7 separate regions of the Homo sapiens genome follow, and regions 1, 2, 3, 4, 6 and 7 are each linked to region 5. The links come from fine-mapping of genetic effects on gene expression. A gene starts in region 5. Each other region holds a variant in brackets. All regions are shown on one strand. Distances are between the middles of the regions. Region 1 has its middle 52 kb from the start of LINC02987. Region 2 has its middle 24 kb from the start of LINC02987. Region 3 has its middle 85 kb from the start of LINC02987. Region 4 overlaps LINC02987 (long intergenic non-protein coding RNA 2987). Region 5 holds the start of LINC00662 (long intergenic non-protein coding RNA 662). Region 6 has its middle 59 kb from the start of LINC02987. Region 7 has its middle 420 kb from the start of LINC02987.

What was found. PIP is the estimated chance that this variant, and not a neighbour inherited with it, causes the effect. A credible set is the group of variants that fine-mapping cannot tell apart.
Region 1: its variant is the best candidate, but not a certain one, in a credible set for the expression of LINC00662 in whole blood (INTERVAL, PIP 0.60).
Region 2: its variant is the best candidate, but not a certain one, in a credible set for the expression of LINC00662 in lymphoblastoid cells (TwinsUK, PIP 0.55).
Region 3: its variant is the best candidate, but not a certain one, in a credible set for the expression of LINC00662 in whole blood (INTERVAL, PIP 0.70).
Region 4: its variant is the best candidate, but not a certain one, in a credible set for the expression of LINC00662 in blood mononuclear cells (TOPMed, PIP 0.79).
Region 6: its variant is the best candidate, but not a certain one, in a credible set for the expression of LINC00662 in testis (GTEx, PIP 0.59).
Region 7: its variant is the best candidate, but not a certain one, in a credible set for the expression of LINC00662 in esophagus muscle (GTEx, PIP 0.89).

What each region holds. Positions count from the first base shown.
Region 1 is chr19:27,739,860-27,743,859 of GRCh38, reverse strand. No RefSeq gene overlaps it. Among named protein-coding and RNA genes, the nearest start is that of LINC02987, 52 kb to the left of the region's middle. The variant G/A (reference allele first, on the strand shown) is at 1,646.
Region 2 is chr19:27,767,699-27,771,698 of GRCh38, reverse strand. No RefSeq gene overlaps it. Among named protein-coding and RNA genes, the nearest start is that of LINC02987, 24 kb to the left of the region's middle. The variant C/AC (reference allele first, on the strand shown) is at 1,865.
Region 3 is chr19:27,706,032-27,710,031 of GRCh38, reverse strand. No RefSeq gene overlaps it. Among named protein-coding and RNA genes, the nearest start is that of LINC02987, 85 kb to the left of the region's middle. The variant G/A (reference allele first, on the strand shown) is at 1,895.
Region 4 is chr19:27,921,888-27,925,887 of GRCh38, reverse strand. The region is part of intron 2 of LINC02987 (long intergenic non-protein coding RNA 2987); the gene reads right to left. Among named protein-coding and RNA genes, the nearest start is that of LINC00662, 130 kb to the right of the region's middle. The variant G/A (reference allele first, on the strand shown) is at 1,647.
Region 5 is chr19:27,791,593-27,795,592 of GRCh38, reverse strand. It overlaps LINC00662 (long intergenic non-protein coding RNA 662), which reads left to right and starts at 1,653. Exons shown (of 3, transcript NR_027301.1): 1 at 1,653-2,061; 2 at 2,361-2,593; 3 at 3,692-4,000. LINC02987 (long intergenic non-protein coding RNA 2987) reads right to left here and starts at 2,162. Exons shown (of 7, transcript NR_146733.1): 1 at 1,984-2,162. RefSeq lists enhancers at 1-274, 1,441-1,920.
Region 6 is chr19:27,732,797-27,736,796 of GRCh38, reverse strand. No RefSeq gene overlaps it. Among named protein-coding and RNA genes, the nearest start is that of LINC02987, 59 kb to the left of the region's middle. The variant C/A (reference allele first, on the strand shown) is at 1,717.
Region 7 is chr19:27,375,861-27,379,860 of GRCh38, reverse strand. No RefSeq gene overlaps it. Among named protein-coding and RNA genes, the nearest start is that of LINC02987, 420 kb to the left of the region's middle. The variant C/T (reference allele first, on the strand shown) is at 2,340.

The sequences.
Region 1 (4,000 bases), 52 kb after region 5:
CAGCTGACACCAGGCATTCTAATAAGGGAGACTTTTGGCCGACCCCAGGTGGTCAAATATTAAAGACAGTTGGGCAAACCCAAGCATTCTAATGAAGAGAATATTATCTAACCCCAGGCAGTCTAATGATAGAGACACCTGGGCAACACCAGGCATTATAATGGGAGAGACTCCCAACCAACCCAAGGCAGTCTAATGATAGAGACACCTTGGTGACCGGTGACCGCAGGCATTCTAATGGGAGCGACTGCTTGCCAACCCCATGCAGTCTAATTAAAGTGACAAGTTGGTGACCCCATGCATTTTAATGGAAGAGACTACTACTGGTCGTCCCAAGGTATTGTAATGACAGAGACACCTGGGTGACCCCAGGCATTTCAATGATAGAGACTCCTGTGGACCCCAGGCACTCAGATGGGAGTTATTCTTGGCTGACACCAGGCATTCTAATGAGAGAGACCCCCAGCCGACCACAGGCATCCTAAAGATAGAGACACCTGGGTGACACCAGGCATTTTAATGGAAGAGACTCCCAAACAACCCCAGACAGTATAATGACAGACTCACCTAGGCAGCCCCAGGCATTCTAATAGGAGAGACTCGAGGCCAAACCTTGGCATTCAAATGATAGAGACAAGTGGGTGGCTCCAATCATTTTCAGGATAAAGACACCTGAGTGACCATAGGAATTCTAATGTGAGAGGCTCCTGGCCAACCTCTGGCATTCTAATGGAGAGACAACTGGCTAAGCATAGGCAGTCTAATGATAGAGATACCTGGGTGATCCCAGGCATTCTAATGGGAGAGACCCCTGGCCGACCCCAGTCAGTCTAATTAAATAGACACCTGGGTGACCCCAGGCATTAAAATAAGAGAGACTCCTACCCAATCTCAGACATTCTAATGGGGGAGACTTCTGGCAGTTTATTGATAGAGACACCTGGGCGACCTCAGGCATTCTAATAAGAGAGATTCCTGGCCGACCCCAGACGGTCTATGCATAGGGACACCTGGGCGATTCCAGGCATTATAATGGGAGAGTCTTACGGTTGACCCCAGGCAGTCTATGGATAGAGACAACTGGGCGATTGCAGGCATTCTAATGCAAGAGACTCTCTGCCAACCCGAGGCATTCTAATGATAGAGAAACCTGGGAGACCCCAGGCATTGTAATTATTTAGGCACCAGTGAGACCCCAGGCATTCTAATGGGAGAGAATTTTGGTTGACATCAGACATTCTAATGAGAGACTCCTGTCTGATGCCAGGCAGTCTAACAATAGAGACACGTGGGCAACCCAGGTATTCTAATGGGAGAGACTTCCAGTCATCCCTAGACAGTCTAATGATAGAGAAACTGGGAGACCCAGACATTTTAATGGGAGAGACTCCTGGCCAACCCAAGCAGTCTATGGATAGAGACTTGGGTGACAACAGGCATTCTAATGAGAGAGATTTCTGGCCCACCCCAGGCATTCTAATGATAGAGACAAGTGGGCAACCCCAAGCATTTCAATGATAGAGACACCTGGGCAACCACAGGTATTCTAATGTTACAGACTCAGGGCTAACCTCAGACATTCTAATGGAGAGATTCCTGGCTAAGCACAGGCAGTCTAATGATAGACATACCTGGACTACCACAG[G/A]CATTTTAATAGGAGAGACTCCTGGCCGACTAAACGCAGTCTAATTAAAGTGACAAATGGGCAACTCCTGGCATTCTAATGGGAGAGACTCCTGGCCAACTGCATGCAGTTTTATTAAAAAGACACCTGGGCGACCCCAGGCATTCAAATAAGAGAGAATCCTAGCTGACCCAAGGCATTCTAATGGGAGACACTCCTGGCTGACCCAAGCAGTCTGTTGATAGAGACACCTGGGTGACTGGAGGCATTCTAATGGGAGAGATTCCTGGCTGACCTCACACAGTCTAATTATAGAGAAACTTGGGTGACCCCAGGCATTCTAATGGGAGAGACTAATGGCCGCAGTGGCTGGCATGAAATTAACCAACCCTGGGTTTAGTATAGCTTAAACTTTCATTTATTGCTAGGCTGACCCCAGGCAGTCTAATGATAGAGACAAATAGGCAACCGCAGGCATTTCAGTGAAAGAGACTCCTGGATGACCACAGACAGTCTAATGATAGAGGCATCTGGGTGACCCTAGGCATTGTAATGAGAAAGACGCCTGGACGACCTCAGGCAGTATAATTAAAGACCCCTGGGTGCCACCAGGCATTCTAATAGGAGAGTCTTTCGGCTGACCGAAAGCATTCTATTGGGAGTGACTCCTGTTTGACTCCAAGCAGTCTATGCATACAGACCACCTAAGCGACCCCAGGCATTCTAATGAAATACATACCTGGCCGAACCCAGACAGTCTAATTATAGAGACACTTTGGCGACCCCAGGCATTCTAATGAAAGAGACTTTCATCTGACATCTGAAAGTCTAAGGATAGAGACTCCTGGGCGACCCCAGGCATTCTAATGGGAGAGAGCCCTGGTCGAACCCAGGAAGCTCAATTATACAGACTCCTGGGCGACCACAAGCATTCTAATAGGAGAGACTCTCAGCCCACCCCAGGCAGTCTAAAAATAGAGGTACTTGGGCCACCCAAGTCATTCTAATGGAGGAGACTCCCCAACGACCCCAGGCAATCTAATGTTAGAGACACTAATGAAAGATACTCCCAGACAACACCAGTCAGTGTGATGAAAGAGACACTTGGGTGACCCCAGGTGTTCTTATGGGAAAGACTCTCAGACCACCGCAGGCATTCTAGTGATAGGGATACCTGTGCAACCCCAGGCAGTCTAATGATAGAGACACCTGGGAAACCCCAGGCAGTCTAAATAAGAGACACCTAAGCGACCCCACGCTTTCTAATAAAAGAGACTCCCAGGCGACCCAAGGCATTTTAATCAGACTCCTGGCCAAACCCTGACAATCTAATGATGGGGACAAGTGGGCCACCCCAATCATTTTAATGATAGAGACACCTGAGTGACCCCAGACATTCTAATGTGAGAGACTCCTGGCAAGCTCCAGCGATTCTAATGGGAGAAACTCTTGTCTGGCTTCAGGCAGTCTAAGGATAGGGAAATTTGGGTGACTGTAGGCATTCTAATATGAGACTCCCAGCCGAACCCAGGCAGTCTAATAATAGAGACACTTGGGGGACCTCAGGAATTTTAATGGGAGAAACTTTTGGCTGACCACATGCAGTCTAATGATAGAAAACCCTGGGTGGCCCCAGGCATTCTAATGTGAGAGACTTTTGGCCAACCACAGGCAGTCTAATTGAAGTGAAAGGTGGGTGGCCCCAGGCATGCTAATGGGAGAGACTCCTGGCTGAACCCAGGGAGTCCATTGATAGGGACCTCTGGGTGACCACACACACTCTAATAATAACGACTCTTGGACGACCCCAGGCAGTCTAATTAAAATGACCACTGGGTGACCTGAGGCATTCTAGTAGGAGAGACTTAGCCGGCCCAAGGCATTCTAATGGAAGTGACTCGTGGCCTACACCAGGCAATCTATGCATAGAGACACCTAAGGGACCCCAGGCATTCTAATGGGATAGATTCCTGGCCAGCCCTAGGAAATCTAATAATAGAGACACCTGGGCGATTGCAGGCATTCTAATGCGGGAGACTCTTGGCAGACATGAGGCTTTCTAATGATAGGGACACATGGGCAACCCAGGCATTGCAATGATAGAGACACCTGTGAGAACCCAGGCACTCTAATGGGAGAAACTTTCCGTTGACACCAGGCATTCGATTGAGAGAGACTCCTGTCTGACACCAGGCAGTCTAATGAGAGAGAAACCTGGGAGAGACTCTTGGCTGACCCAAGCAGTCTATGGGTAGAGACACATGGGTGACCCCAAGCACTCTAATGGGGAAGATTTCTAGCTGACTCCAGGCAGTCTAATGATAGAAACACCTGGGCAACCCCAGGCATTCTAATAAGAGATACTCCTGTGTGACC
Region 2 (4,000 bases), 24 kb after region 5:
TTCTGGCCCAAGTTGTCTGGGCAACCTTAGACATGGTAAGGCAAGAGCCATCTGATCAACATTAGACATGGCAAGGTGAAAGCCATCTGGTCGACAGGGATTCTAATAGAAGACACTCTGGGCCGATGGCAGACGTCTAATAATAGAGACAAAGGGTGAGCCCGGACATTTTAATGGGAGAGAAGCCTGGATGACCCCAGGTATTCTAATGTTAGAAACACCTACGTGACTCCAGGCCTCCTAATGGTGGAGACTCCCAGCCTACCCCAGGCATTCTCTTGTGAGAGACTTCTGGCTGACCCCAGGCAGTCTATTTATGGAGACACCTGGGAGACCCCAGGCATTCTGGGAGGAACTCCTGGCCAACCGCAGGGAGTCTAATGATAGAAACACCTGAACGACCACAGGAATTCTAATGGAAGAGACCCCTGGCAGGCCCCAGGCAGTCTAATGATAGAGGCACCTGGGTGGCCCCAGGTATTCTAACCAGAGAGACTCCTGGCCAACCCCAGGCAGTCTAATCATAGAGACACCTGGGTGACCCCAGGCATTCTAATGAGAAAGACTCCCGTGTGACAGCAGGCAGTCTAATGATAGAGACACCTGGGTGACCCTAAGCATTCTAATAGGAAAGACTCCTGGCTGACCCCAGGCAGTCTAATGATACAGATACCTGGGTGACCCCAGGCATTCTAATGTGAGAGATGCCCTGCTACATTCAGGAAGTCTAATGATAGAGACAATTTGACGACCCCAGGCATTCAAATGGGAAGGCTCCCAGCCAACCCCAGGCATTCTAATGGCAGAGACTCCCCGCTGACCCTAGGCATTCTAATGATAGAGACACCTGGGCCACCCCAGGTATGGGAGAAACTCTCAGGTAAACTCAAGTATTCTAACAGAGGTACTCCTGGCTGGCCCCAGGCAGTCTAATGATAGAGACAGCTGGGTGACCACGGGTGTTCTAATGGGAGAGACTCCTGGTCAACCCCAGGCAGTCTAATTATTAAAGACACCTGGGCTACCCCAGACATTCTAATGGGAGCAACTCCCGACCAACCCCAGGCAGTCTAATGATAGAGACATGTGGGCCATCACAAGAATTCTAATGGAAGAGGTTCCTGGCTGACCCCAGGAGAGACACCATTCTAATGGGAGAGACTCTGGGCCGTTTCCAGGCTGTCTAATGATAGAGAAACCTGGGCGACTGCAGGCATTTTAATGAGAGCGGCTCCTGTCCGAACACCAGCAGTCTAATGATAGAGACACCTGGGCAACCCCAGACATTCTAATGGGAGAAAATCCTGTGCAATCCCAGGCAGTCTAATTATAAAGACACCTGGGCAACCCCAGGCATTCTAATGGGAGAGACCCCCGGCTGACACCAGGCATTCTTATGGGAATGACTCCTGGCTGAGCCAGGCAGTCTAAAGATAGAGACACCTGGGCATACCAAAGCATTCTAATGGGATAGACTAACGGCTGACCCAAGGTAGTCTAATGATAGAGACACCTGGATGGCCCCAGGCATACTAATGGAAGAGACTCCTGGCTGACACCAAGCATTCTAATGATAGAGACAACTGATCAACCCTAGGCATTGAAATGGAAGAGACTCCTTCTCGAACCCAAGCATTCTAATAATAGAGACAGCTAATCAACTACAGGCATTTTGGAGAAACTCCCGATCAACCACAGACATTCTAATAATAGAGACACCTGGGCGACCACAGGCATTCCAATGGGAGAGACTCCTGGCCAACACCAGGTGGTCTAATTATAGAGACACCTGGGTGACCCCACGCATTCAAATGGGAGAGACTCCTGGCCGACCCCAGGTGGTCTAATTATAAAAAAAAAAAAA[C/AC]CTAGGTGACCCCAGTCATTCTAATGGCAGAGACTATCAGCTGAACCCAGGTATTCTAATGGGAGAGACTCCTGGCTGACCCTAGACTACCTTAGGTAGTCTAGTTATAAACACACCTGGCCAAACCCAGGCATTTTAATGGGGAAGACTACTGGCCAATCCAAAGCATTCTAATGATAGAGACACCTAAGCGACTCCAGGCATTTTAATGGGAAAGACTCCCAGCCGACCTGAGACATTCTAATGGAAGAGAGCCTTGGTTGACCCCAGGCAATCAAAGAATAGTAACACCTGGGCGACTCCAGGCATTCTAATAGGAAAGAGTCCTAGATGACACCAGGAAATCTAATTATAAAAACACCAGGGTGACCCAAGGCATTGTAATGGGAGACACTCCTGGCAGAACCCAACAGTCTAACGATTGAGACACCAGTGCAACTCAAAGCATTGTAATGGAAGAGACTCCCGCAGACACCAGACAGTCTAATAATAAATTCACCTGGACGACCCAAGGCATTCCAATGGGAAAGACTCCCAGCCGACACCAAGTAGTCTAATGATAAAAACACATGAGTGATTCCCGGCATTCTAATGGGAGAAACTACCAGTTGATCACAGGCTGTATCATGATAGAGACACATGCATTTTAATGGGAGACACTTCTGGCTGACCTGGGGCAGTCTAATGATGGAAACACCTGGGCAAAACCAGGTATTATAATGGGAGAGACTGCTGGCTGAAGCCAGGCATTGTAATGATAGAGACACCTGGGCAATCCAGGCATTCTAATGGGACAGACCTTTGGCTGATTCCAGGGTTTCTAATAATAGAGACACCTGGTCGACCCCTGGCTTTCTAATGGGAGAGACTTGTGTGGACCGCCAGGCAGTCTAATGATAGAGACACCTCGGGGACCCCAGGAAATCCAATGGGAGAAACTTCCAGGTGACCCCATTCATTCTAATGATAGAGACACCTGGGCGACCAGATGCATTTTAATGGAAGAGACTCCTGAACGACCTCAGGCATTCTTATGATAGAGACAGTTGGGAGACCCTAGGCATTCTAATAAATCGAACTCCTGGGCGATCACAGGCAGTCTAAGATTAGAGACACCTGGGTGACCACAGACATTCTAATGGGAGAGACTCCTTGCTGACCACAGGCAGTCTAAGGATAGAAACACGTTAGCATTCGCCAAGACACCTTGGCGATCACAGGCATTCTAATGAAAGAGACTCATGGCCGACCCTAGGCAGTCTAATAATAGACATACTTGGGTGACCCCAAAAATTCTAATGTGAGAGACTCCCAGTTGACGTCAGGCAGTTTAATAAATGTGAGAGACTCCCGGCCGACCCCAGGTACTCTAATGATAGAAGAACCTGGGCCACATCTGGCATTCTAATGGAAGAGACTCCTGGCCGACCCCAGGCGGTCTAATGATAAACCTGGGCGGCCCAATGCATTCTAATGGGAAAAACTCTGGTCCAAACCCCAGCATTTTAATGGGAGAGACTCCTGGCTGACCCCAGGTGGTCTAACTAAAGAGACACCTGAGAGAACCCAGGCATTCTAATGGGAAAGACTACCGGCCAACCCCAGGCATTCTAATGATAGAGACACCTTGTTGAGCCCAGTCTTTCTAATGGAAGAGAATCCCATCCAACCCAAGACAGTCTAATAAGACACCTGGGCGACCCCAGGCATTCTAAAGAGACACCTAGGCGACTCCAGGCGATATTATAGCAGAGACTCCCAGCCAACACCAGACAATGAAAGAAACTCCCAGCGGATGCCAGGCAGTCTAATGATAGAGACACCTGGGCAACCCCAGGCATTGTAATGGGAGAGACTCCGGTCCAATCCCAGGCATTCTAATGAGAGAAACACCTGGCTGACCCCAGGCAGTCTAATAATAGAGAACCTGGGTGAACCCAGGAATGCTACTGAAAGAGACTCCCGGCCAATCTCAGGCAGTCTAATGATACAGACCTCTGTGCAACCCCAGGCATTCTAATAATAAAGACTTCCAGCCGAACCCAGACAGTCTAATGATAGAGAGACCTTAACGTCCCCAGACATTCTAACGAGAAGAACTTCTTGCTGACCACAGGCAGTCTAATGATAGAGACA
Region 3 (4,000 bases), 86 kb after region 5:
CTGTCTCACTACAATGCTTGTCAACCTCCACAGTAGGAGGTGGGATGGTTGATATCTGTAGTACTATTCCTCTGAATTTACTTCTTGATTCTTTGCCCTTGATTGTCCCCACGGGGGTCACTGGCCCTTTATCTCAAGGTTCGGTGGGCCGGGTGTTAGGTAGAGCATCCACCTCTGCTAAGGGAGTCACCATTCAAACTGGTCTCATTAAATCTGATTCCGTTGACGAGATTAAATTAATTGTGTCTGCCAAGGTTCCTGTTTCCATTCTGGCTGGTGAGTCAATTGCTCAATTGCTTTTACTACCTAATATCATTTTAAACAAAAGAGATAAGACACATGGCCCTGGGATGGGCTCTGGCAGTGAAAAGGCCGCTTATTGGATTAATGTAATTGCTAAACAACAGCCCACCTGCACCATACACATTGAAGGAAGAAAGTTTGAGGGCTTAGTAGATACTGGTGGTGATGTTTCTCTTATTTCCTCTAGTTTATGGCCTTCCTCTTGGCTTAAACATCCCACTAACATGGGACTAGTAGGTGTTGGAAAGGCCAAGGAAGTTTATGAGAGCACATTTATTTTGCCTTGCACTGGCCCTGATGGTCAAAAGGGTAAAATTCAGCCCTATATCATGCCAATTCCCATTGATCTTTGGGGTAGAGATTTACTGGCACAATGGCGGGCTGAAATTAATATTCCACGTAACTCTTATAATGCTCCCAGTCAGCATATGATGGAAAATATGGGGTTTGTTCCTGGACTCGGTCTCAGACCACAGCACGAGGGGATTAGTAAACCCCTCCCAGTTACTATAAAAGAAAACAGGGCTGGTTTAGGTTATCCTTTTTAGTGGCAGCTGCTGCCACGCCTCCTGATCCTATTCCTTTGCAATGGAAATCTGACACACCTGTTTGGGTTCAGCAGTGGCCGCTTTCTAAAGAAAAACTGGGAGATTTAAATCAATTGGTTTCTGAGCAGTTGCAACTTGGAAATGTGGAACCTTCTCTTTCCCCTTGGAATTCTCCTGTGTTTCTAGTAAAAAAGAAATCAGGCAAATGGCGGATGGTAACTGATTTAAGGGCCATTAACACTGTAATTAAACCTATGGGGGCCGTCCAACCTGGCTTGCCTGCCCCTGCTCTAATACCTAAAAATTGGCCTCTCATAGTTATTGATCTTAAAGATTGCTTTTTTTCATATTGCTTTACATAAATCGGATTGTGAAAAATTTGCTTTTACTGTACCATCTATCAATAATCAGGAGCCTGCAGCTCATAATTGTTGGAAAGTACTTCTTCAGGGAATGCTAAATAGCCCTACAATCTGCCAGCTTTATGTTGGACAAGAGCTTTCACCAGTTCAAGCCCAATTTCCTGAGGTGTATATTCTTCATTATATTGATGACATTTTAATTGCTGCCCCCAATGATAAAGAATTAATTGACTGTTACCACATTTTAAGCCACTGTGTTACAGAGGCTAGATTACACGTCGCTCAGGATAAAATTCAACAGATCACTCCTGTTCAATATTTAGGAATGGTGATCGATAAACAATGTATTCAACCTCAAAAATTTCAAATTAGGAGAGATTCTTTAAACACTTTAAATGACTTTCAAAACCTTTTGGGTAACGTAAATTATTTAAAACCTACTTTAGGCATTCCAACTTATGCGCTGTGTAACTTGTTCTCTATGCTGTGGGGAGATTCCGATCTCCACAGCCCCGGGACTTTGACCCCTGAGGCTTTACTAGAACTGGAATTCATAGAGGAAAGAATTCAGACCTCCCAGTTATCTAGAGTACAGCCGTTTCAGCCTTTTCAGTTTCTGTTTTTTGCTTCATCACACTCCCCTACTGGACTAATAGTTCAACATAATGATTTAATGGAGTG[G/A]CGTTTCCTTCCTCATTCTATGTCCAAAACTTTGTTTATGTAGACCAAATAGCCATATTAATTGGGCAGGCTCAGTGTAGAATACTTCAAATTTCTAGATTTGATCCAAATGTAATTGTACTTCCTTTAAATTGGCTTGAAGTTCAATCTGCCTTTCAACATTCTGTACTGTGGCAAATTCACTTGGCTGATTTTATTGGCGTTATTGACAATCATTATTCAAAAAACAAATTGTTTGATTTTTATATAAATGACGTCTTGGGTGGTTCCTCAATTAACCAAAGATCAACCCATTCCTGAGGCCATTACAGTGTTCACTGATGGCTCCAGTAATGGCAATGCTGGTTACATAGGTCCTACAGACAAACTTATTTCTACCTCTTATGCTTCTGCTCAAAAGGTGGAGTTAATTGCTGTGATTACTGCCTTACAGGATTTCCTCAAACCTTTAAATATTGTCTCAGATTCTGCTTATGTTGTACATGCCACTAAAAATATAGAAACTGCTGCTATCAAACACATTGATAATTCTGAATTGGCTTCTTTATTTTCAAGGTTACAACAGGTGGTTCACCAACGTAGACACCCTTTCTATATTACACATATTGGGTCTCATACCACTTTACCAGGACCCATGTCTGCTGGTAACCATAAAGTCAACTGTTTGGTCTCTTTTACAACCCAAGAAGCTCAGGAGTTCCATAATCTCACTCATGTCAATGCCGCTGGATTAAAAGATAAATTTGCTCTTACCTGGAAACAGGCTAAGTTTATTGTTCACGGCTGCTCTCAGTGCCAGGTCTTCGTACTTCCAAATCAGGAACCTTGTGTTAATCCTAGAGGCCTAACTCCTAATGCTTTATGGAAAATGGATGTGACTCATGTTAGCTCCTTTGGCATACTGTCATATGTGCATGTCTCTGCAGATACCTTCTCAGGTTTTATCTGGGCTACTTGCCAAACAGGGGAAGGCAGGGCCTATGTTAAAAAAAATCTGTATTCTTGCTTTGCAGTTATGGGGCTTCCATATCAAATAAAGACACAATGTCCCTGGATATGTTAGTAAGGCTTTTGATTCATTTATGCAACAGTGGGGAATTTCCCATATTACTGGAATCCCTTACAATCCTCAGGGACAGGCTGTGGTGGAACGGGCCAATCACACTTTAAAAACCCAATTGTCCAAACAGTCTGAACAACCTAAACATGATTTAACTACTCCCCACTCCCAATTACATTTGGCATTGTTTACTTTAATTTTTTTAAATGTTTCTAAAGATAATACTCTAACTGCAGCTGAACGCCATTATACAGGCAAAAAATTTTCCTTAAACGAAGGCAAACCAGTGTTATGGAAAAACTCCCAAGCCAATACCTGGGAATCTGGCACAATTATAACGTAGGGAAGAGGATATGCCTGGTTTCACCAGGAGATCATCAATCCCCTGTCTGGGAACCCACCAGAAGATTCAAGCTTCGGGTGAACACTGACAATGAAAACCACAGAGAAAAGACGTCTGTGTCAGAGACTACCTTCAGAAGTGGTAAGATCTGTGCCAACTGCTCAGAAAAAGGCACACCAAATCACAATGGATTTAAATCAATCCTCCCTGATGGCAATGGAGACCCATCTAACTAATCCCACTTCTCCTGATTACCTTTCTTTTTCTCCTTACAAACCTAAAAATCTCACCATTTCTATTAGCCTGAAAATAACATCCCTCTGTTCTTCTCTTCCTCCTTCAGCCTTCAATCTCATTTACACTAGGTTTTATTTAATGATTCTCCTCCTTATACTTTCTGTCTCACCAGTTTCCTCTCACACTGATTTACCTGCTACACATAATTATTCTTATTGGGCTTATGTGCCTCTTCCTCCACTTATTCGACCTCTCACCAGGGTAGATGCTCCTGCACAAATCTACACTAACGATAGTGTGTGACTGCCTGGAGCCACAGATGACCGTTGCCCTGCTCAACCAGGAGAAGAAGGCACTGCATTTAATGTTACCATGGGTTGTAAATACCCGTCTCTGTGCCTCAGACATGCACCTGGTTGCATCCATCTGGAAACTCAAGTCTAGGCTGCTTATCTTCCGGAAAGAT
Region 4 (4,000 bases), 130 kb before region 5:
CTCAAAGTTGAACGTAACTGTGTATCTCCTAGTCTTTTCATTTACATCTAATGGACATAAACCTATTTATTCCCCTGCCACAAAAATATACTAGCAAAGCTATTTGCAGTAGGAAAAAAAGAAAAAGAGAATTCTAGCACTGGCTGTGTATGTGATTGACTTCTGGATCTACTCTCTAAAAGTATTCTTTACTTTTTTAGCTAGGAATTATCAAGTAACTTGATCTTTAGGTAGCAAACTGGGAGATTCAGTATAGATCCATTTGACTCAAAAGTTCCTCACTGTTTCATCTTTAAACTGGGTAGAAAAAAAATTACAAACCTCTAGAACATTCCCAATTCAGCACCAATAAACTCTTCCTCTCTCCTTTCCTCACCAAAGCATCTATAGTTCCTTACACATCTTTCATCATGGTCCACCCTCACCCACCAAGGCTTTCGTGAGTCCCAATCACCCATAAATTCTTCTTACTGCTATCCACCCACTTGTGCAGCCTCCTTTCATCTCCCACTCATCCTTCCATGCGCAACCTCCAGACTTCAAGCACACACAAGCCTCACCATTCTCCTTTTCTGTACATTCCAATCCATGCCTATGTCAACATGTTATCATTCTGAGACACACCTCAACTATAGCAGCCCTGACCACCCATCTCTGTGGATCTTCAGTTTGGTCCTTCCCAATCAACTTTAAATGCCTAAGAGTGAGGATAGTCTCTCCTCAGCTCTGGATAAATTCCTGCATTCTCTCTCAACTACCTAGTGGTTGTGTGCGCTTACCAAAGATATCAAATCCATGTCTTAGGTTCTCAATATGTAAAGCAACTGCTTGAAAAGAGTGTTATCAAAATTAAGTGAGGCCAGGCATAGTGGCTCATGTCTATAATCCCAGTACTTTAGGAAGCTGAGGTGGGTGGATCACCTGAGGCCAGGAGTTTGAGACCAACCTGACCAACATGGTGAAACCCCATCTCTACTAAAAACACAAAATTAGCCGGGCATGGTGGCGCATACCTGTAATCCCAGCTACTTGGGAGCCTGAGGCAAGAGAATTGCTTGAACCCAAGAGGCAGAGGTTGCAGTGAGCCAAGATCATGCCACTGCACTCTAGTCTGGGCAACAAGAGCGAAGCTCCGTATCAAAAAACAAAAAACAACAACAAAAAAAACAAATTCATGTCTTAGTTTCTCAATATGTAAAGCAACTGCTTGAAAAGAGTGTTATCAAGATTAAGAGAGGCTGGGCACGGTGGTTCATGCCTGTAATCCCAGCGCTTTGGGAGGCCAAAGCAGGTGGATCATGAGGTCAGAAGTTCAAGACCAGCCTCGCCAACATGGTGAAACCCCGTGTCTACTAAAAACACAAAAAGTAGGCGGGCATGGTGGCAGGAGCCTGTAATCCCAGCTACTCATGAGGCAGAGGCAGGAGAATCACTTGAACTTGGGATGAGGAGGTTGTAGTGAGCCGAGATGACAACACTGCACTCAAGCCTGGGTGACAGAGTGAGTCTCCATCTCAAAAAAAAAAAAAAAAAAAAAAAAGATTAAGTAACTTCAGGTAAAAGATTAATTAAAAAGAGATAGGACCACAACTATAACCACAAATGACCTGTTCTTTCTTATTCTCCCATATAATTTAAAATTAATC[G/A]GCTGGGTGAGGTGGCTTATGCTTGTAATCCCAGCACTTTGGGAGGCTGAGGCAGGCAGATCACCTGAGGTCAGGAATTCGAGACCAGCCTGGTAACATGGTGAGACCCTGTTTCTACAAAAAATTAGCTGGGCGTGTTGGCACGCGCCTGTAATCCCAGCTACTCGGGAGGCTGAGGCAAGAGAATTGCTTGAACCTAGGAGGTGGAGGTTGCAGTGAATGGAGATCGTGCCATTGCACTCTAGCTTGGGCAAAAAGAGCAAAACTCCATCTCAAATAATAATAATAATAATAATAATAATAAAATTCATCTTCACATCTTAATCCATATTCACCCATTTTTATCTAACTCCCTTCTTGCTTGTCCATTAACTGCTGGTCCTAGTTAATGCAACTAGAAAGTAATGGACAGTCTCCAACAAGAGATGGGCATAAAAAAGTCTGGAGGGCTGCCTAACACGTCCCTCACCTCCATACCCAGAGCACCATCACCACCCACTCCACGAGCTATCACAGTCATCAACCATCCCCAATCTCTCTCGTTAAATATGTAACCCCAAGGGTTGTTGTCTCACCAAAGTTCACACTTGCAAACCTAAAGACTAGATCTGGAAGGTATTTCCTACAAGCGAATGCAGTGCCGACATTTATCCAATAGCTTATAAAGCAGACAGAGCAAGCAATTCATGAATCATTTAACAAACGTTACAGAAAAACTCCCCTAACTTTAGTAACAGGAAAAGATGCAATTCAGATAGCAACAGAACCTGGTTTTAGCATTGACCATTCAGTGTTAAAGAGGCAAAAACAAAAAAAAATTAAGATGCGTTTTCTTATAACAAAGTATAAATATCCTAGGGGAATAAGATAATTTAACAAATGTTTATGAGTCTTAATTTTCAAAACTGCTCTGGGGAAAAATGCTTACACACATGCGCAGTAGAACTGTCCTACATGGACCAAGCCTCTAATGAGATGAATTTATCTCATCTGTCATCATTTGTCACTTTCTCAGATCTCCAGAGGCACGCTCAGATGGAGCTAGGAGAAAGACCTCATAGGACGTGGGAAATGCCAATGAAAATAATGCTCTCATCACATGTATAAACTATTCAGACTGCTCTGCAGCTGCTGATGCAAGAACATCAAACTGTAGAAGTGTAAAGAAAAGGAGCACATGAAACTTTACTTCTGTTGACTAAAACAAAGAAAATAACTTACTTCATTTTCTTTAATAAAAGTCTCAAATTCCAAGGAGAAGAAGATTTGGAGAGATGTTTACTGTATTTAATACTTAAGTACTATATTGAGTCATGCCATACAATCATACAAATGAACTGAGATAAAGCTTTTAAAAAGATATATTTAAAAACTTTCATACACTTAAACTTTCATAAACTCCTTCATACACTTAAAACATATTTTAAGTGTATAAAAGAGATACAGGCCTAGAAAATTCCAGGACTATAAGGATTCCTAGTGTCTGTTCCTGTACCATCTAAAGGAAAAAATAAATAGGCTCTTACCTATTAAAAGTGTAAGTATTAAAATCTCAAAGCAATTTTCTCCCACTCATAAACCCACTCTCTTTCTATCTCTCTCTGCCCCCATCTCTTCTGCTTTCTCTCCCCTTCCCACCCTCTAGCCTCCTGCAACATGTACTATTTTCTGACAAGTCTTCTGGGGTCATAGCTTGCTCTTCTGATAAAAGCTTCTCATTTTTCTTCAGTGACATGGCTGTCTTAACAATTGGCTGGTGTAACTACCTCCAAGAAATGAAGATAAAGAACACAAAGCTGCATGGGTCCATCAGAAATCTTGGGGCTAGTTATGCCTCTGAATTCAGGATTTTCCAATTTTATATAGTTATATGCGCATTCTAGACCATTTATCATAATGCCCCCTGCACGGTCTGGGGTAACACTGCTTGCTATAACATATCCACTTCCTGCAGAAAATTGTATGAAAGTCACATGCAGTGAGATTCATAAAGATTATAATAGCCTCATGTCAGTTCTGATTAGATTTTGCTGCCAAATGACTATTCCCCAAACTTAGGACAAAACTTTTGGAATTCAAAGGCTTTTGGATCTTGGTGCAGATAAGAGATGGTAACTCTGCACCTGGTTTTAGGGCAATTAATCAAATGCTCTTCTTCTTTGGGTTCTTTCAAGTTAGAAGTCAAGAATCACAATTTCTTTCCATCTACAAAATCCCAGATGCTGTGTATGCTGTTTCTAAAGGTTTTTGTTTTTGTTTTTAGACAGGGTCTCACTCTGTTGCCCAGGCTGGAGTGCAGTGGTGCAATCACATCTCATAGCAGCATCAACCACCTGGGCTCAAGCGATCCTCTC
Region 5 (4,000 bases):
GAGTAAGGGCATGAGGCAGGGGGCCCCAAGCCAAGTTGAACACTGGGGTACCGTCCCTGGAGCAGCCTGGGGTACCCTGACAGCACCCATGCCCCAGTCTGCACACACCCCTTGTTCTGAAATTAACAGCCTGCAGGGGTGTCCTCAGTATCAGAACTAGTGGGCCACACAAAGCCCTGGAGGACTCTACAAACCCAGGTCCATGGGGAGCAGCCCTGTAAGGGCCAGATGGCTGGGTGGAAAAGCTGACCAAGTCTTCCTTCCTTTCAGCCAAATCTGGAAGAAAGGCACCTTGCCTAGAGCAGTGTTCCTGGTACCCAGGCCTCTGTGGGCATCCTTCAGCACAAAGACCCTCTCCAAGGGGGGATGGGCTGGCCCTCCCAGGACCACCAACCCACTTCCAGAAGCCCATGGGTCATCCCCACCTTCACCTGACTGGGCTGTCCCTGACGCTAAGGCCCAGCAGCACGAAGGGGATTCCACACAAATCAGGGCAGTAGGCTGCTCTCTGGCGGCACTGGGGGCTTAGGGTCTGGCCAGCCTGTCCCTGGCTCAGGACACATGCCTGGAAATTAGGGTTTTCTCCTCTGCTCTTAGCATCTCCTGGGTAAACCAATAATTACTCTCCCTCATGTCTCAAAATTCACATCTATCTAAAAGGCGCTAGTGAGGGTGACATTTCCAGGAAGCCATAGCCCATGTCACCCCCTGCAAAGCTGTGACCTTTTCCGCGGGCAGGCCAGGCGGCGGAGTTCTCCCAAAAGCGGATGAACTGGCACTCTGGCTGGAGAAAGCAGAGAGCAGCAGCACAATGGACAGCGTCTGGGACCTCAGGCCGATTCCACAGCAGCTTAGGAAAGCAGGAGGCCCCCTGGGCGGGAGGAGGCTTGATGCTCTGGAGGGAAACGGAACTGAGCAGCGGGAGGTGGGGTGAGCCTGAGACCCGACCGATTTTGGCAAAGGCGAGGCGCACTTTGCAGTATCATACTCTCCTCACTGCCCAGCCCAGACCTGCCCTTCAAGTCCCTCTATGGACTCACTCCCCTTAGCCAGGGGTGGCACAGATTCAGTAGCCAGCATGGGTTTGGAAACAGAGGTCAACACCGCCCTGCCCCTCCCTGCGGGGCTGCGCAACACCCTTGAACCCTGCGCATGCTGAGACTGTAGTCCCATAGCCCTGCGACCAACGGCCGGAAGCAGCTAAGACACTATTACCAGCATGCCCGGCAGGAGGGCACCGCGCTGCCCCCCCCCCTCAAGGGACCAGCATCATCCCCACTCCCGTAGCATACTGGGATTGTAGTCCCGCAGCTCTGCCACCAACAGCCAGAAGCAGTTAAAAAACTGTTCCTCTCAGCATGCCCTGCAAGGCGCGCACCGCTGCTGTACCTCCCTTAACGTATCCGTAACCTCCCTCAACGTATCCGTACCTCCCTCAACGTATCCATACCTCCCTCAAGGTATCCGTACCTTCCTCAAGCTATCCGCACCACCCTCTCTTCCATTTCATGCGAAGATTGTAGTCCCGCAGCCCTGCGACCAGCGGCCGGAAGCAGCTAAGATGCTACTGCTCCCAGCATGCCCCGCGAGGCGCGCACAGCACAGGCCCTCTCTCAAGGTCACCACCTCCACTCCCGTTGTATGCTGGGATTGTAGTCCGGCCGCCCTGTGACTAACGGCTGGAACCGCCTAAGACACCACCCCAGCCAGCATGGCCGGCAGGAGCGCACCGCGCTGTCTCCCTCCAGGGATCCGCACCGCCCTACAATCCTGCTTTGTGCTGAGATTGTAGTCCTGCAGGCGTACAACTAACAAGCTGGGTGCAGATAAGAGACTACAGCTCCCCGCATCCCAAGCAAAGGTCCCTCCTCTACGGAGCCCCTCCACGCGTCCACTGCGGTTCCGCCGTGCCAAGGGGAGCTTGGCTGTTCACGGGCCTCACCTGCTAGCGAGAAGATAGCTTGGCCGGGCGGCTGATCTCACCTTGTAATTCTGACACTGTGTCTCCCGGGCTTGTCGGCTTCATGACTTGTGCCCAAAGTTTGATTTCTCGCAGACCAGGTAAAAGCCAAGAGGCTCTCATAGGCGCCTTGGCAGAGTTGCCATTGGAACGGGCGTCCTCTAGTAGCTGGGATCTCCCCGCCCCTTCCTCCTGAGGGGCCACTCCTTTCTGCCCCACCCTTCTTATTGCCCCACCCTTTGCCACACTCCTTCAGAGATGCGCAGTGCTGCCCCTTTCTATGGGCAGGGCCGAAGGTCCGCGTGTAAAAGTACCCAGTCCCTGGTAACCTGACACTTCCCTTTTAAAAGCCACCTTTTGTCTATCTCTGGCCTGCCACGATTCTTCCTGTGCTCCATAGGAGGACCCATTGGACCCCCGGGCTGGCTGCAGGGCCCACACCTGGGTTAGACCTCGCACAGGGACGCTGCTGCCACTGTAATAAAGCGTGCCTACACGCTTCTGAAACTGGTGTAGGAACAACCTCAGTTCTGTGAAAGGCGGACGCAGCAGGACAGAATCTCCGTGGACATCTGTCTGGAGGAGCAATTTTACTGCGACATTTTAAAGAAACAAATTTAATTGATTTCCAAGGTAAGAAATTAAACCTTGAAAACTAAACTGAAAAGTCATCTGTGTTTGACAAGTCAGACTTTCTCCAAGAAGAAAACTAAGGAGTGCATATTTTCCATTATTATAAATAGTGAAAATGAGAAATCATAGCAACTCCCTGGAAAATCTTGCTCTGCCAGTTTTCTAAATCACAGTAGGGCCTCGATATGGTTTTATTTGTTTTTGTTTTTGTTTTGGAGTGTGTTCACCTTTTGAATATAAGAATTTGCGGTTTTGACCAAGTTTTTAAATTTTCAGCTATTGTTTATTTGTTTTTGTATTATATTTAATTTTTCTGTCTCTCCCTCTCTGTCTCAGACTCAATCATTTCACAGGTCTCTTAGGCCTCTTTTCATTTTCTTTAAACTTGTTTCAGTCTTCAGATTGGATGGTTTATATTGCTGTCTTCTGTTTCTACTCTGTAAACTAAAAGTTCTTTTTATTTTATTATTTTATTGTCTTCTATTTTACTCTTTTTATAATTTCCATGTCTCTGCTGAGACTCTACATGAGTTAATTCATTATGAGAATATTTTCCTTTACCCCCATGAACGTACTTATAATAGCTGCCCTGAAATACTTGTCTGCTGATTACATCATCTCGGACATCTTAGAAATAGCTTCTGCTGCCTGCTTTTTATCTTGTGTATAGTTTGCATGTTACATTTCTTCACACATTTTATGAATTTTAATATTGTGTAATAGAAATTATAAATATTAGTTATAGAGACTAAATTCTGTTGTATTCTTTGGAAGAGCATTGTTATTATTTGAAGAGGGGGTAAATGTGGCTGAATTCAAACAGAATAATTATCTTCCCTACGGTGGGAAAGGTTGAAATTCTCATTCAGTCACACACACGTATGTATGTATTGTATATAGATGAATGTTTCTATGTAACTATATATAATATTTTATCCAGATTGTATCATTGTTATCTGTGAGAGTGTTAGTTTAGCAAGCTACTCCAGTATTACCGGAAGCCAGAACTTCAGTTTTGTTTTCTTACTGGATTTTATGTAAATGAGAGTATCTACTATGGATAGTTTTACACCTACTTTTTCTTTTTTTCTTTTTTAGTTATTTGAGACAGAGTCTCGCTCTGTCACCAGGCTGTACAGTGCCGTGGCCTGTCTCGGCTCACTGCAACCTCCACCTCCTGGGTTCAAGCGATTCTTATGCCTCAGCCTCCCAAGTATCTGGGACTACAGGCATGCGCCACCACGCCCAGCTGATTTTTGTATTTTTAGTAGAGACGGGGTTTCACCATGTTGACCAGGATGGTCTCAATCTCTTGACCTCGTTATCCGGCTGCCTCCTCCTCCCAAAGTGCTGGGATTACAGGCGTGAGCCACCATGCCTGGCCACATCTACTTTTTTAAATGTGTC
Region 6 (4,000 bases), 59 kb after region 5:
CCCAGGCAAACCTAGGCATTCTAATCAGAGAGACTCCTGGCTGAACCCCAGCATTCTAATGATGAAGACAAGTGGGCCACCCCAATCATTGTAATGATAGAGACATCTGGGCAATGCAAAGGATTCTAATGTGAGAGACTCCTGGTGAACCCCAGTGATTCTAATGGGAGAGACTCTTGTCAAACTTCAGGCAGTCTAAGGATAGAGAAACCTGGGTAACTCCAGGCATTCTAATAAGAGAGACTCCATAACGAACCCAGGCAGTTTAATGATAGAGACACTTAGGGGACCCCAGGCATTTTAATGGGAGACTTTTGGCTGACCACAGGCAGTCTAATGATAGAGACAGCTGGCGATCCCAGGCATTCTAATGTGAAAGAAGTTTGGCCGGCCATAGGCAGTCTAATGAAAGTGAAACTTGGGCTACCACAGGCATTCTAATGAGAGAGACTCCTAGCTGACCTAAGGCAATCTGATAAGAGACACCTGGGCAATCAAAGGTATTCTAATAATAGAGACTCCCATCCAACCCAAGGCATTTTAATGGGAGAGACTTCTGACGGACCCAAGCAGTCTATTGATAGAGACACCTGGGAGACCCCAGACATTTTAATGGGAGAGACTCCCAGCCAATACCAGGCAGTCTAATGAAACAAACACCTGGGTGACCGAAGGTGTTCTAATGGGAGAGACTCTCAGCCAACCCCAAAAATCTAATGATTGAGATACCTGTGCGACCCCAGGCATTCTAGTGGGAGAGACCCATGTCTAATTTCAGGCAGTCTATTGATAGAGACAAATGGGCGACCACATGCATTCTAATGGGAGACACTTCTGCTCAACTCCAGGCATTTTAATAGGAGAGGCTCCTGGCCAACCCAAAGCTTGCTAATAACAGAGACACCTGCTTGACCCCAGGCATTCTAATGTGAGAGACTTTTGGCAAACTGCAGGCAGTTTATTGATAGAGACACCTTGACGAGCACAGGCATTCTAATGGAAGAGACCCCTGGCTGACCCCAGGCAGTCTAATTAAAGAGACACCTGGGTGTCTTCAGGCGTTCTAAAAGGGGAGACTCCCAGCAGAACCCAGGCATTCTACTGGGAGAGACTTCTGGCTGAAAGAGGCAGTCTATGCATAGAGACACCTGGGAAACTCCAGGCATTCTAATGGGAGAGATTCCTGGCTGACCCCAGGTAATCTAATTATAGAGACACCTGAGAGACCTCAGGCATTCTAATGGTAGAGACTCCCTGCTGACTCCAGGAAGTCTGATGACGGAGACATTTGGGCGACTGCAGGCATTCTAATGACAGACACTCCCGGCCGACCCCAGGCAGTCTAATGATAGAGACAACTGGGTGAACACAGACATTCTAATGAGAGAAACTCCTGGTCAACTTGAGGCTTTTTAATGATAGAGACACCTGAGTGGCCCCAGGCATTGTAATGATATAGACACCTCCACGACACCAGGCACTCAAATAAGAGAGACTCCTGGCCAGCACCAGGCATTCTGATGAAAGAGACACCTGGCCAAACCCAGGCAGTCTAATGATAGAAACACCTGGGTGAACCCAGGCATTCTAATGGGAGAATTTCCCATTTAACCCGAAGCAGTCTAATGATGGAGACATCTAGGCAGCTTCAGGCATTCTGATAGGAGAGGGTCCTGGCCAAACCCAGTGATTCTTATGGGAGAGAATCTTGTCTGA[C/A]CCCAGGCAGTCTAAAGATAGAGACTCCTTCATGACCACAGGCATTCTAATGGGAGAGACGTTCTGCCAAACCCAGGCAGTCTAATGATAGAGACACCTGGGTGACCCCAAGCATTCCAAAGGAAAAGGCTCCTGGCCAACCCCAGGCAGTCTAATTATACAGATTTTTGGGTGACTCCAGGCATTCTAATGAGAGAGACTCCTGGCCAACCCCAGGCAGTCTAATGATAAAGACAGTTGGGCTACCCCAAACTTTCTAATAGAAGAGACTCCTGCATGACCCCAGGCATTCTAGTGATAGAGACAGCTGAGCGAACCCAGGCATTCTAACTGGAGAGAATCCAGACCAACTCCAGGCAGTCTAATGATAGAGACACCTGGGCCACCCAAACATTCTGATGAAAGAGACTACTGGCCGACTTCAGATAGTCTAATGATAGAGCCACCCGGGTGATCATAGGCATTCTAATGGGAGAGACTCCTGGCCAACCCCAAGCATTTTAATGATAAAGACATTTGGGCAACCACAGGCATTCTAATGGGAGAGAATTTTGGCTGAACTCAGGAATTCTAATGATAAAGACATCTTGGCAACCCTAGGCAGCCTAATGATAAAGACACCTCAGCGACCCCAGGTATTTTTATTAGAGAGGCCCCCCAATCCTGGCATTCTAATGATAAAGACACCTGAACGACCCAAGGCATTTTAATGGGAGAGATTCCTGGCTGACCCCTGGCAATCAAATGATAGAGACTCCTGAGTGACCTCAGGCAGTCTAATGATAGAGATATCTGGCTGTCCACAGGTATTTTTATGGGAGAGACCCCAGTCAGCCCCAGGCATTTTAGTGATAGTGAAACTTGAACAACCCCAGGCATTCTAATGGGAGAGGCTCCCGGCTGACCCCAGGCATTCTAATGATAGAGTCACCTAAGTGACCTCAGGCATTCTAACTTTAGATATTCCCAGCAAACCTCATGCATTCTGATGGGAGAGATTCCTGGCTGGCCCCAGGCCATCTAATGATACAGACGCTTGGGCAATTCCAAGCATTCTAATTAAAGAGACTCCTGGCTGACAACAAGCAGTCTAATTAAAGAGATACCAGGGTGGCCCCAGGCATTCTAATAGCGGAGAACCCCAGCTGACACCAGAGATTCTAATCAGAAAGACTTCCAGCTGAAATCAGGCAGCCTATATAGACACCTTGGTGACCCAAGGTATTCTAATGGGAGAGACTCCTGGCCAACCACAGGCAGTCTAATGATAGAAACACCTGGAAGAGCACAGGAATTTTAATGGGAGAGAGTTTTGGCTGACCCCAGGCAGTCTTACGATTGAAATACCTGGGAGACTCCAGGCATTCTAATTTTAGAGACTCCTGGCAAACCCCAGGCATTCTAAAAAGAGACTCCTAGTAACCACAAACAGTCTAGTGATAGAGACACCTGGGAAACCATAGGAATTCTAATGGGAGAGATTCTTGGCCCAACCCCAGCATTCTAATGATGAAGAAAAGTGGGTGAGGCAAAGCATTTTAATAATAGAGACACCTAGGTGACCCCAGGCCTTCTAATTCAAGAAACTATTGGCCAACACCAAGCATTCTAATAGAGAGACTGCTGGTGAACACAGGTGTCCTATGAATAGAGACACCTGGATGATCCCAAGCATTCTGATGAAAGAGACTCTTGGCCGACAACAGGCAATCTAATTATACAGACTCCTGAGCAACAGCAGGCATTCTAATGGGAGAGACTCCTGACTGACCCCAGACAGTCTAATGATAGAAACATCTGGGTGACATTTCTGAGTCTTTTGAAACCTATAGTAAAAAACTGAATATCCCACTATAAAAACAAGAAACAAGCTCTCTGATTAAATGCTTTGTAAATTGTGGGTTCACCTCACAGAGTTAGAACTCTATTTTCATTCAAAGGGTTAGAAACACTTTTTTTGTAGAATCTATGAAGGGGCATTTCTGAGTCCATTGAGGCCTCTAGTGAAAAACTGAATATCCCATGATAAAAACAACAAACAAGCTATCTGTGAAAGTGGTTTGCAATGTGAACATTCATCTCACAGAGCTAAATCAATCTTTTGATTCAACAGGCTGGAAACACTCTTTTTGTAGAACATACAAATGGACATTTCTAAGCACATTGAGGCCTATAATGAAAAATCAAATATCCCACAATGAAAACTAGAAGGAAGCTATCTGTGATAATGCTTTGTGGTGTATGGATTCATCTCACTGACTGAAACCTGAGTTTTGATTCACCA
Region 7 (4,000 bases), 420 kb after region 5:
AAGGACTCCAAATATCCACTTTCAGATTCTACAAAAAATGGTTTTCAAAACTGCTCTGTCAACAGATAAGTTCAGTTCTATGAGTTGAAGGCATACATCAAAAAGAAGTTCATCAGAAGGCATCTGTGTAGTTTTTACGTAAAGATATTACCTTTTCCACGAGGCCTCAAAGCTCTCCAAACATCCACTTGCAGATTCTACAAAAAGAGTGTTTCCAATCTGCTCAATCGAAAGAAAGTTTCATCTCTGTGACATGACTGTACACATCACATAGAAGATTATCAGAATGCCTCTGTGTAGTTTTTATATGAAGATATTTCCTTTTCCACTAGAGGCCGCAATGCTCTCCAAATATCCACTTGCAGATTCTACAAAAAGAGTGTTTCAAAACTGTTCAATCAAAAGAAATATTCAAATCTGTGAGATGAATGCACACATCACAAAGATGTTTCTCAGAACGCTTCTGTGTAGTTTTTATTTGAAGATATTTCCTTTTTCACCATAGGCCGCAAAGGGCTCCAAATATCCACTTGCAGTTTCTAGAAAAAAAGAGTTTCAAAGCTGCTCAATCAAAAGATATGTTCAACACTATTAGATGAATGCACACATCACCAAATGTTTATCAGAATGCTTCTGAGTAATTCTTATGTGAAGATATTTACTTTTCCAGCACACGCTGCAAAAGTCTCCAAATATTCACTTGCAGATTCTGCAAAAAGAGAGTTTCAAAACTGCTCAATCAAAAGAAATTTTCAACTCGGTGTGTTGAATGCACACATCACAAAGTATTTTGTCAGAATGCTTCTTTGTAGATTTGTGTGAAGATAATTCCTTTTTCATAATAGGCCTCAATGTGCTCCTAATATCCACTTGCAGATTCTACAAAAAGAGAGTTTCAAAACTACTCAATCAAAAGGTAGGTTCAACTGCGTGAATTGAATGCACACATCAAAAAGAAGTTTCACAGAATGCTTCTTAGCAGTTTTTATGTGAAGGTATTTCCTTTACCAGAATTGGCCTCAAAGCGCTCCAAATATCCTCTTGCATATTCTACAAAAAGGGTGTTTCAAAACAGCTCAATCAAAAGAAATGTTCAACTCTGTGAGATGAATGCACATATCACAAAGAAGTTTCTCAGAATGCTTCTGTGTAGTTTTTATGTGAAGATATTTCCTTTCCCACGATTGGCCTCAAAGTGCTTAAAATATCCACCTGCAGATTCTATACAAAGTGTGGTTCAAAATTGCTCAATCAAAAGATAGGTAAAACTCTGTGAGATGAATGCACACGTCCTAATAATGTTTCTCAAAATGCTTCTATATAGTTTTTATGTGAACTTATTCCCTTTTCCAAAATAGGCCGGAAAGGGCTCCAAAAATTTACATGCAGATTCTACAAAAAGTGAGATTCAAAACTGCTCAATCAAAAGATAGGTTCAACGCTGGGAGTTGAATGCACACATCACAAAGTATTTTCTCACAATGCTTCTGCGTAGTTTCTATGTGAAGATATGTCCTTTTCCACAAAAGGCCTCAAAGCACTCCAAATATCCACTTGCAGATTCTACAAAAAGAGGGTTTCAAAACTGCTCAATCAAAAGAAACGTTCAACTCTGTGAGATGAATGTACACATCACAAACAAGTTTCTCAGAATGCCTCTGTTTAGTTTTTATGTGAAGATATTTCCTTTTTGACAATAGGCCTCAAAGCACTCCAAATATCCACTTGCAGATTCTACAAAAAGAGTGTTTCTAAACTGCTCTATGAAAAAAATGGTTTAACTCTCTGAGATGAATGCACACATCACAAAGAAGTTTCTCAGAATGCTTCTATGTAGTTTTTATGTGAAGATATTACCTTTTCCACAATAATCCTGAAAGCGCTCCAAATATCAACTTGCAGATTCTACAAAAAGTCTGTTTCCAAACTGCTCAATCAAAAGAATGTTTCAACTCTGTGAGATGAATACACACATCACAATGACGTTTCTGAGAATGCTTCTATGTAGTTTTTATGTGAAGATATTTCCTTTTCCACAATAGGACTCAAAGCGCTTCAAATATCCACTTGCAGATTCTATAAAAAGAGTGTTTCAAAACTGCTCAATCAAAAGATAGGTTCAACTCTGTGAGTTGAATGCACACATCATAAAGAAGTTTCTCAGAATGCTTCTGGGTAGTTTTTATGTGAAGATATTTCCTTTTCCACAATACGCCACAAAGCGCTCCAAATATCCACTTGCAGATTCTGCAAAAAGAGTCTTTCCAAACTGCTCAATCAAAAGAAAGTTTGAACTGTGTTTGATGAATGCATACATCACAAAGAAGTTTCTCAGAATG[C/T]TTCCGTGTAGTTTTTAAGTGAAGATATTTCCTTTTCCACAATAGGACTTAAATCGCTCCAAATATCCACTTGCAAATTCTACCAAAAGATTGTCTCAAAACTGTTAATCAAATGAAACTTTCATCTCTGTGAGATGAAGGCACACATCACAAAGAAGTTTATCAGAATGCTTCTGTGTAGCTTTTATGTGAAGACATTTCCTTTTACACCATAAGCCACAAATGGCTCCAAATATCCACTTGCAGATTCTACGAAAGGGGACTTTCAAAACTGCTCTATGAAAAGATAGCTTCAACTCTGTGAGGTGAATGCACACACACCAAGGAAGTTTCTCAGAAGGCTTCTGTGTAGTTTTTATGTGAAGATATTTCCTTTTCCAAAATAGGCTGAAAAGGGCTCCAAATATCCACTTGCAGATTCTACAGAAAGAGAGACTGAAAACTGCTCAATCAAAAGATAGGTTCAACTCTGTGAGTTCAATGCGCACATCATAAATTTGTTTCTCAGAATGCTTCTGGGTAGTTTTTATGTGAAGATATTTCCTTTTCCACAGTAGGCCACAAAGCGCTCCAAAGATCCACTTGCAGATTCTACAAAAAGAGTCTTTCCTAACTGCTCAATCAAAAGAAAGTTTGAACTGTGTTTGTTGAATGCACACATCACAAAGAAGTTTCTCAGAATATTTCCTTGTAGTTTTTATGTGAAGATATTTCCTTTTCCACAATAGGACTTAAATCGCTCCAAATATCCACTTGCAAATTCTACCAAAATATTGTTTCAAAACTGTTAATCAAATGAAAGTTTCAACTTTGTGAGACGAATGCACACATCAGAAAGAAGTTTATCAGAATGCCTCTGTGTAGCTTTTATGTGAAGACATTTCCTTTTACGCCATAAGCTGCAAATGGCTCCAAATATCCACTTGCAGATTCTACAAAAGGGGAGTTTCAAAACTGCTCTATGAAAAGATAGCTTCAACTCTGTGAGTTGAAGGCACACATCACAAGGAAGTTTCTCAGAATGCTTCTGTGTAGTTTTTATGTGAAGATATTTTCTTTTCCACCATAAGCCTCAAAGCATTCCAAATATCCACTTGCAGATTCTACAAAAAGCGTGTTTCTAAACTGCTCAATCAAAAGAAGGGTTCACCTTTGTGAGATGAATGCACACATCACAAAGAAGTTTCTCACATTGCTTTTGTGCAGTTTTTGTGTGAAGATATTTCCTTTTCTGCCATAGGCCTCAAAGGGCTCCAACTATCCACTTGCAGCTGCTACAAAAGAGAGTTTCAAAACTGCACAGGTAGGAAGCATCAATATCGTGAAAATCGCCATACTGCCCCCCAAGTAACTTATAGATTCAATGCCATCCCCATCAAGATACCAATGATTTTCTTCACAGAATTGGAAAAAACTACTTTAAAGTTCATATGACACCAAAAAAGAGTCCACATCGCCAAGTCAGTCCTATACCAAAAGAACAAAGCTGGAGGCATCATGCTACCTGACTTCAATCTATACTACAAGGCTACAGTAACTAAAACAGCATGCTACTGGTACCAAAACAGAGATATAGATCAATGCAACAGAACAGAGCCCTCAGAAGTAATGCCGTATATTTACAACCATCTGATCTTTGACAAACCTGACAAAAACAAGCA